Homo sapiens: one gene and its partner. The protein of the gene in region 1 purifies or fractionates together with the protein of each later gene. This does not show direct contact. Each region holds a gene or a part of one and is shown on either strand. Other genes may lie near its edges.

What was found. Proteins that work in one complex are often made in the same cells at the same time.
Region 2: the proteins of ATOH1 (region 1) and CCDC124 purify together in Homo sapiens (affinity purification with mass spectrometry, with the first as the bait; one study listed by BioGRID). This does not show direct contact.

What each region holds. Positions count from the first base shown.
Region 1 is NC_000004.12:93,827,565-93,831,464, reverse strand, and holds ATOH1 (transcription factor ATOH1), read right to left. Parts: upstream 2,713-3,900; 5' UTR 2,539-2,712; coding exon 1,474-2,538; 3' UTR 501-1,473; downstream 1-500. UniProt on the Homo sapiens protein: Transcriptional regulator. Activates E box-dependent transcription in collaboration with TCF3/E47, but the activity is completely antagonized by the negative regulator of neurogenesis HES1.
Region 2 is NC_000019.10:17,939,515-17,943,014, reverse strand, and holds part of CCDC124 (coiled-coil domain-containing protein 124), read right to left. Parts: intron 360-3,500; coding exon 170-359; intron 1-169. UniProt on the Homo sapiens protein: Ribosome-binding protein involved in ribosome hibernation: associates with translationally inactive ribosomes and stabilizes the nonrotated conformation of the 80S ribosome, thereby promoting ribosome preservation and storage.

The DNA of each region.
Region 1 (3,900 bases):
TTTCTGTTATCATCTTTGTCTCTTCTGGTCTTCTTCTCCCAGAAGAGAGAGAGAGAGAGGCATAGACAGTGTGCACTGCGCTTGACCTATGTGAAAAATTTTCAGCTTGAGTAGGTTTTATGAGTGGACATAGCTAACCCTGGTAAAGTTAACTACTCCAGGCTAGGTTCTAGCAAACCTAAAACTTATGGCCTCCCCCCCTTGCAGATGTTGTTGGGGCAAGGAGTAAAGAAGACTGGGAAGATCCTGGCCATCAAAGAGGCAAAACTGTGCTGCAAATTTGGAAGAAGTTTTATCTCACAATTTAATTATTGACTTGAGTGCTTTTCTTTGAAGGGGTTTTGATACTACCTGAAGGCACCAAGTTTACAACATTTTTCTTCAAAACTGTAAGATCGCATAAATGACATTGAATAGAAGACTTAACTCAATTCTTCAAAGTCATTCATTTGAAAATTGTTTTCAGTAGTTATACTCAAGGAATAAGTGACAAAAGGCTTCTTTTCACATTTATTTTAATCATTTGCAAAACAAAATACATTAAACAAGGGCAGTTGGCTTTGCTAAATTAAAATAAAATGATCTCGAGTAGAAAACGTAAAAAATGAATCAAGATAAGTAGAAATGGTAGCAAACAATAATAAATAAGTTTTCTAATATTAACAAAGCAAAATAAAATTGACCAAATGCGTTTGACACTACTAGATTTTTTTTAATTTTTCATTTTTTAAACAAACATTTGCAAAGAGCTTAAGAATTATAAGTGGCTGTGTTTAAAAAAAAAAAAACTGGTCTGCAATTGGCAGTTGAGTTTCTCCTGGAGCCACCACCGCAGCAGCGGCTGATAAAGTGCGTGCGCGGAGTTTCCTAAAAGACGCCAACGTTCTCGCGATCGGATGCACATACTGGGTATGTTTATACAATATATAAACCTTAAAGTTTCTTGTTTTCTAACAATTCCATAGTCAAAAGTTATCCACTTTGGAAGCACTAATTTTGCGTTTCATTGTGCATTTTGGAAAACAACTTCGGAAGACTAAATCTCCCACACTTGAGTGCGCAACACACAAGGATGGATGCCCAGGGCGTAAAATAAATTAAACCCAAACCAGTGACAGAGAAGATGCGACGTTTTAGCAGCGTATTGGCAGCAGGGAACTAGAATAATGATGCCATATACGGGTACCTACAATTATACCGTATCTATCTAAAGGGGGAGCAGAAGGTGGGCGGAAAGGACACAATTTTAACAGAAAGTTTTCATCAAACAATATGGACCGTAGGAAGTTTGGAACAGCGGCGGCATTTGCAAACCATCAAATGTAGCTGCCATCTGAAGCCAAGTCGTTGCTAAACAACGACCATCGCAGAGCAAAAATTAAAGGGTGCGGGGATCTTTAACCGCGGGGCTTCCCGCGCACTGGGAAAGGGCAGTTTTGTTTCTGTCTCAGTTTTCAGGCTTCTGTCACCTTCCTAACTTGCCTCATCCGAGTCACTGTAATGGGAATGGGGGGAAAATTCCCCGTCGCTTCTGTGGGACCGAGGCGAAGTTTTGCTGTTTTCCTCCTGCACTGGCTGCAAGATGCTCCCGGGGAGAGAAGGAGACAAATTCTTTTGCGCCATCATCGCTGTCAGGGCGCTGTCCTCGAAAGTCGAGAAGTGCAGAGCGTCCAGCTGCACCGAGTACCCTCCCGCAGAAGCTGGGGCTGAGAAGCGAGTCCGGCAACTCCCGGGCGGGGTCGGCCGCTGGCTCCCTCCGGAAGCCTGCTGAGCCCCAGCTGCGGTCGCGTTGCCCGCGCCCCCTTCATAGGAGGCCGCGGTGCGAAGGTGGTGGTGGTCGCTTTTGCAGGAGGCTGGAGGCGGCGGTGGCTGTTCCCCTCCGCTGGGCGTTTGTAGCAGCTCGGACAAGGCGTTGATGTAGATTTGGGCCATCTGCAGGGTCTCATATTTGGACAGCTTCTTGTCGTTGTTGAACGACGGGATAACATTGCGCAGCTGGTCGAAGGCGTGGTTCAGCCCATGCATCCTGCGCCGCTCCCTGGCGTTGGCTGCTAGCCGTCTCTGCTTCTGCACCCCATTCACCTGTTTGCTGGAAGGGGCCCGTTGGCGGCTGCAGCCCAGCTCGTCTACCACCACCCCGCCTTTCAGCTTGCACAGCTGTTCCCGCACTTTCACCGGCCCGGGGCTCTTGCTGCTGCTGGCACCGCCGCTGCTCCTCCTTACCAGCTCCCCCCGGCCGTCCACCTCGTCCCGGGGCGCAGCGGCCTCTGAGGCACCCAGCTCCGGGGAATGTAGCAAATACTGGGCGGCGCGTGCCGTGCAGATGCCCTGCAAAGTGGGAGCCAGCCAGGCGCGTGGGTCGGTGCTGTCCAGGAGGGACAGCTCAGGCGGGTAGACGGGATGCTCTCTCGCCTGCAAAGTTGCAGGTGGCTGCGGCGGCGGCGGCGGTTGCGGGAGATGATGCGGCTGGGGCTGGCGATGGTGGTCTCCCAACTCCTTCACTTCAGCCCACTCTTCTGCATGCAGCAGGCGGGACATTGCACTGCAAAGGCTCGGAGGCTCAGGATCGGAGGCAGCACTGGGACACCAGCTCAACCAAAAAAAAGGCCCTTTCCGGGTCTCTTCTGCAACGTCTTATTTTTTTTTCCCTCCTCGACCCTCCCCCACCCACTCGGAGATCACACACCAGGTCGCGTGCAACTATGCTTCTCCGGTTGCTGAAGGCGCTGCGCCCCTTTAAAAAGCGGCACGCGCCACTCAGTCTCCCCCCGCTCCTCTCCCAACCCCCTCCTCGCGCCGGTCGCGTGTCTTCTCAGCCAATGGAGGGCGCGGGCAGGCGCGTGCGAGCAGCCAATCAAAGAGTTTTTACACCCCGAGAAAAGTTCTTGTGTGCAGAGGACTCCCAAGCCTGCTCAGGTTTTTTTTTTTTTTTCCTTCTTTTAAATTCGTCAGATTCATATGTTAATTGCAGGGCTGTAATTCGACTCCGGTGTGTGTCACCACCCCGGCGGCTGGGGTGCGGGAGCGGTGCGGAGCCGGCTCTCGGCTGGTGCCCAAGCTGACTCGGGTCAGATGTGCACGACCGCGGGCGGCTCTGGGCGATTCTGGACCCGCCAGGCGCCCAGAAGCCACTCAAAGCAGAGAGAAGGCCGCCTACCCTGTGCTGCCCCCAAGCTAGGATCACAGCTCCCACTTCTGATGCCCAAGCATTTACGATTTCTCATGTATAATAGGATGTTTGTATTTATGTATGCAGGTATTTATAAATCTCTCATGCATGTTCATAGATATATAACTGCTACATGACGTCCATCATTTAAGATTGCTGTTGGAATAAAGGGGGAAAACCCACTCGTCTCAGAGTATGTTTCTTACTTTTGCTCCATCTTTTCATTTTTTACTTCAGATCTCTTAGTTCGACTTCGTCATATGATCTTTTTCTTAATGGAAAATAGAGCTGCGGTGTAGTGATAGCACACCAAATTCCAGATCCCCCAATTCTCTCTGTCCCCTTTCCCCAGCACCCTGCGGCCAATTAGGATTGTAATCTGCCTAAATCTCTCCGTTGAGTGTAATTTAGGGCCAGAATATTTTACGGTATTATGCAGAGTTTCAACACACACAGTAGGACTCCTCATTAAATGCCCAGCCAGGGGAGGGTGCCCAAAGTAAAATGAAAGGCGCCTGCATTCCCTGCAATCCTTAACACTTTCAAGGCACAGAAGTCCCAAGTTACCTACCCTTTTGCCTCGATCGCCCTCTCTTTACTGCGGGCTCGTGGCTTCCTCAGTTTAACCTCCTCCCGCCCCTCCGTTTAGTTAGGGTGGGCTTCCCCTTTCCAGCCCCCACCCCCACCCCACTCCGCCCCATACAATCAGGGAGGTCCTTGGCAAGGGGGGG
Region 2 (3,500 bases), on another chromosome or scaffold:
GAGGTTGTCTGCTCACGGCCAGGCCTACCAGGAGGCGGCCTACCCACCCACCCTGCACCACGTGGAGCCCCGGCAGCTTCTCTGGGGGCCAGGAGGGGGCTAATGGACTCAAGGTCCACTGCCTCTGCAGTGGGCAAAAGTGCAGCTCCAGAGCGGGATGCCGCCCGACCTGTGTCCGGGGCCTCCCTGAGCTGATGGTCTCGGCGCAGCGTGTCCTCGATCTGGGCCCGGGTGACCTTGCTGGACGTGGCCACCCGCGGCGCCTTGCCGCCCTTGAGCTTGGAGTCCTCCTCCTCCAGTAGGCGCTGCGTCTCCTTCTTACGTTCCAGCTGGTCGAGGCGCCGCTTCTCCTTCTCCTCCTGCGGGGGCGGCGTGCATGGTCAGGCAGAAGACCCCACACCCCCGCGCCACCCACTAGCCTGGGGTTCGAGTTTTCATCTCAGCCAACGAGGATTTAGGCTCTGTGCTGGGTGCAGGGGACATACCAGGAACAAGATAGGTCCCGGTGCTGCCCTGGGCGGGGGATGTGAGGCCAACAGGGGAACCTTGGACAGGGCGGGTGGGTGGCTCTTGAAGAAGTGACGCTCCTAGGTGCGAAGAGCGCCGGCCAAGGGGGAGAGCTGGGGAACAGGAGCGTCCTTAGCAGCAGGGCTACCAGTGCAAAGGCGCCGAGGCAGGAGCCATTTGTTGTAACAGGAACAGCTTGGAGGCTGGAGTGGGAGTGAAGCGGGAGGGGGAAGAGGCCGGGAGGGAGACGGCTGGGCCATGCGGAGCCTCTGGGGGCCAGGGAGGGGTTCATGTTGGATTCTAAGAGCCGTGGGAGGCCTGGACCCGTTTCAGGCTAGGGCAGGGGCTCTGCCCTTATGAGTCGGGCAGCACTGTCCACGTTTCCCTGCCGTGGGTCACTGAGGCTGAAACTGATTCCACATCGGCCGCCCAGGGAAGCCCTGATGCTGGCTGGATGAGGGACATCTGGGCTACGGGACTTGCCCTTGCCCTGGCCTGCACGGACCCCAGGGGGCCGAGCAAGCCCACGGTTTATATGCAGTGCTGCTGGAAGCTCAGGGCAGTACTCTGCCCACTGCCTGGCACTCCTGCAGGGCCCTGGTCTCGGACACCCCTGCCTGCCCCCTCACTGCCTGAGACTCCACCATCTGACTCTCACACCTTCAGCCTTCCCAGGGACGATCCCCACACCTGCAGTGTCCCCCTGGGACACTACCACTGCATCTCCAGATAGATTTGACAGAAGGGAATGTCGCAGAATAGGGGTGGACGCACCTAAGGACACTGCCAGGGCCTGACCCCCACCCCCACCAGCACAGCAGGAAAGTGGAGGGGGCGGTTAAAGTCAAGGCTGTTGGAGTGCACAAACTGGGCTCCCATTGCTGTGCTGAGGAGCCTTAGTTTCCCCCTCGGTCAGAGGCAACGTCCCGAGGCTCCCCGACCGATGCGTGTCACACACACATTCTGCCTCAGACAGGGTCCTTTTTTTTTTTTTTTCTGAGACAGTCTCTCTCAGTCGCCCAGGCTGGAGTGCAGTGGTGCGATCTCGGCTCACTGCAACCTCTGCCTCCCGAGTTCAAGCAATTCTCATGCCTCAGCCTCCCAAATAGCTGGGACTGCAGGTGCCCACCACCACGCCTGGCTAATCTTTTGTAATTTTAGTAGAGACGGGGTTTCACCATGTTGCCCAGGCTGGTCTCGAACTCCTGACCTCAAGTGATCTGCCTGCCTTGGCCTCCCAAAGTGCTGGGATTACAGGTGTGAGCCACTGTGCCTGGCCAATGCATGATGTTTGAAGTGAGGAGAGGTATCACTGGTGGGGGACTGACCAGGAGGGGTATGAGGGAAACTCACGGGGGCTGAGAATATTCTAGAGAGCAGGGGTTGACAAACTATAGCCAACTAGCCAACTGCCTTCTTTGGTAAAGGTTTTTTGTGTTTTTTTCGTTCGTTTGTTTTTTCGAGACGGAACCTTGCTCTGTCGCCCAGGATGGAGTGCAGTGGCGCCATCTCGGCTCACTGCAAGCTCCTCCTCCCGGGTTCATGCCATTCTCCTGCCTCAGCCTCCTGAGTAGCTGGGACTACAGGTGCCTGCCACCATGCCCGGCTGATTTTTTGTATTTTTAGTAGAGATGGGGTTTCACCGTGTTAGCCAGGATGGTCTCGATCTCCTGACCTTGTGATCTGCCCACCTCGGCCTCCCAAAGTGCTGGGATTACAGGAATGAGTTACCGCGCCCGGCCCTTTTTTTTTTTTTTTTAGGTGGAATCTTGCACTGTCGCCCAGGCTGGAGTACAATGGTGCAACCTCTGCCTCCCAGGTTCAACCGATTCTCCTGCCTCAGCCTCCGGAATAGCTGGGATTACGCACACCCGCCACCACGCCCGGCTAATATTTTGTATTTTTAGTAGAAATGGGGTTTCACTATGTTGGCCAGGCTGGTCTCGAACGCCTGACCTTGTAATCCACCTGCCTTGACCTCCCAAAGTGTTGGGATTACAGGTGTGAGCCACCATGCCCGGCCCCTTTGGTAAAGTTTTATGGGCATGCAGCCACACCTATTTGCTAACCTACTGTCAGTGGTGGCCTTCATGCTCAATGATAGGGTCTAGTGGCTTCCTGTCTGGCCCTAAGTGAAGTCTAAGCTATTCACCACCTGGCCCCAATTGCCTGTCCAACCCCCTCCATACCTTGTCCCGGATGCATGCAATACAGGTGTGCTCAGAGGTACATGCTTTCTGACCCACACTCCTAGGACAGGCATGCTTTGCTGTCCCTTAATCAAATCTCTTAACAGGCCAGAGGCGGTGGCTCACGCATGTAATTCCAGCACTTTGGGAGGCCGAGGTGGGCGGATCACTTGAGGTAAGGAGTTGGAGACCAGCCTGGCCAACATGGTGAAACCCCATCTCTACTAAAAATACAAAAATTATCCAGGCATGGTGCCATGCCTGTAATCCCAGCTACTTGGGAGGCTGAAGCAAAAGAATCGCTTGGACCTAGGAGGCGGAGGTTGCAGTGAACTGAGATCACGCCACTGTACTCCAGCCTGGGCAACAGAGACTGTCTAAAAAAAAAAAAAAAAAGGCCAGGTGCGGTGGCTCACACCTGTAATCCCAGCACTTTGGGAGGCCGAGGTGGAAGGATCACTTGGGGCCAGGAGTTTTAGACCAGCCTGACCAACATGGTGAAACCCCATCTCTACTAAAAATGCAAAAATTAGCCTGGCATGGTGGCGCACACCTGTAATCCCAGCTACTCGGGAGGCTGAGGCAGGAGAGTTGTTTGAACTTGGGAGGCAGAGGTTGCAGTGAGCCGAGGTCGCGCCACTGCACTCCAGCCTGTGCGACAGAGTGAAACTCTGCCTCAAAAAAAAAAAGCCTCTTAACAAAGGAGAAGGTGCCAGTCTGGCTCCAGCTCTTCCTCATAGCCACGTGATCTGGGCTTTCTGCCTTCTCTGCCTCAATTTCCTCATCCAGAGGATGGGGCCAACC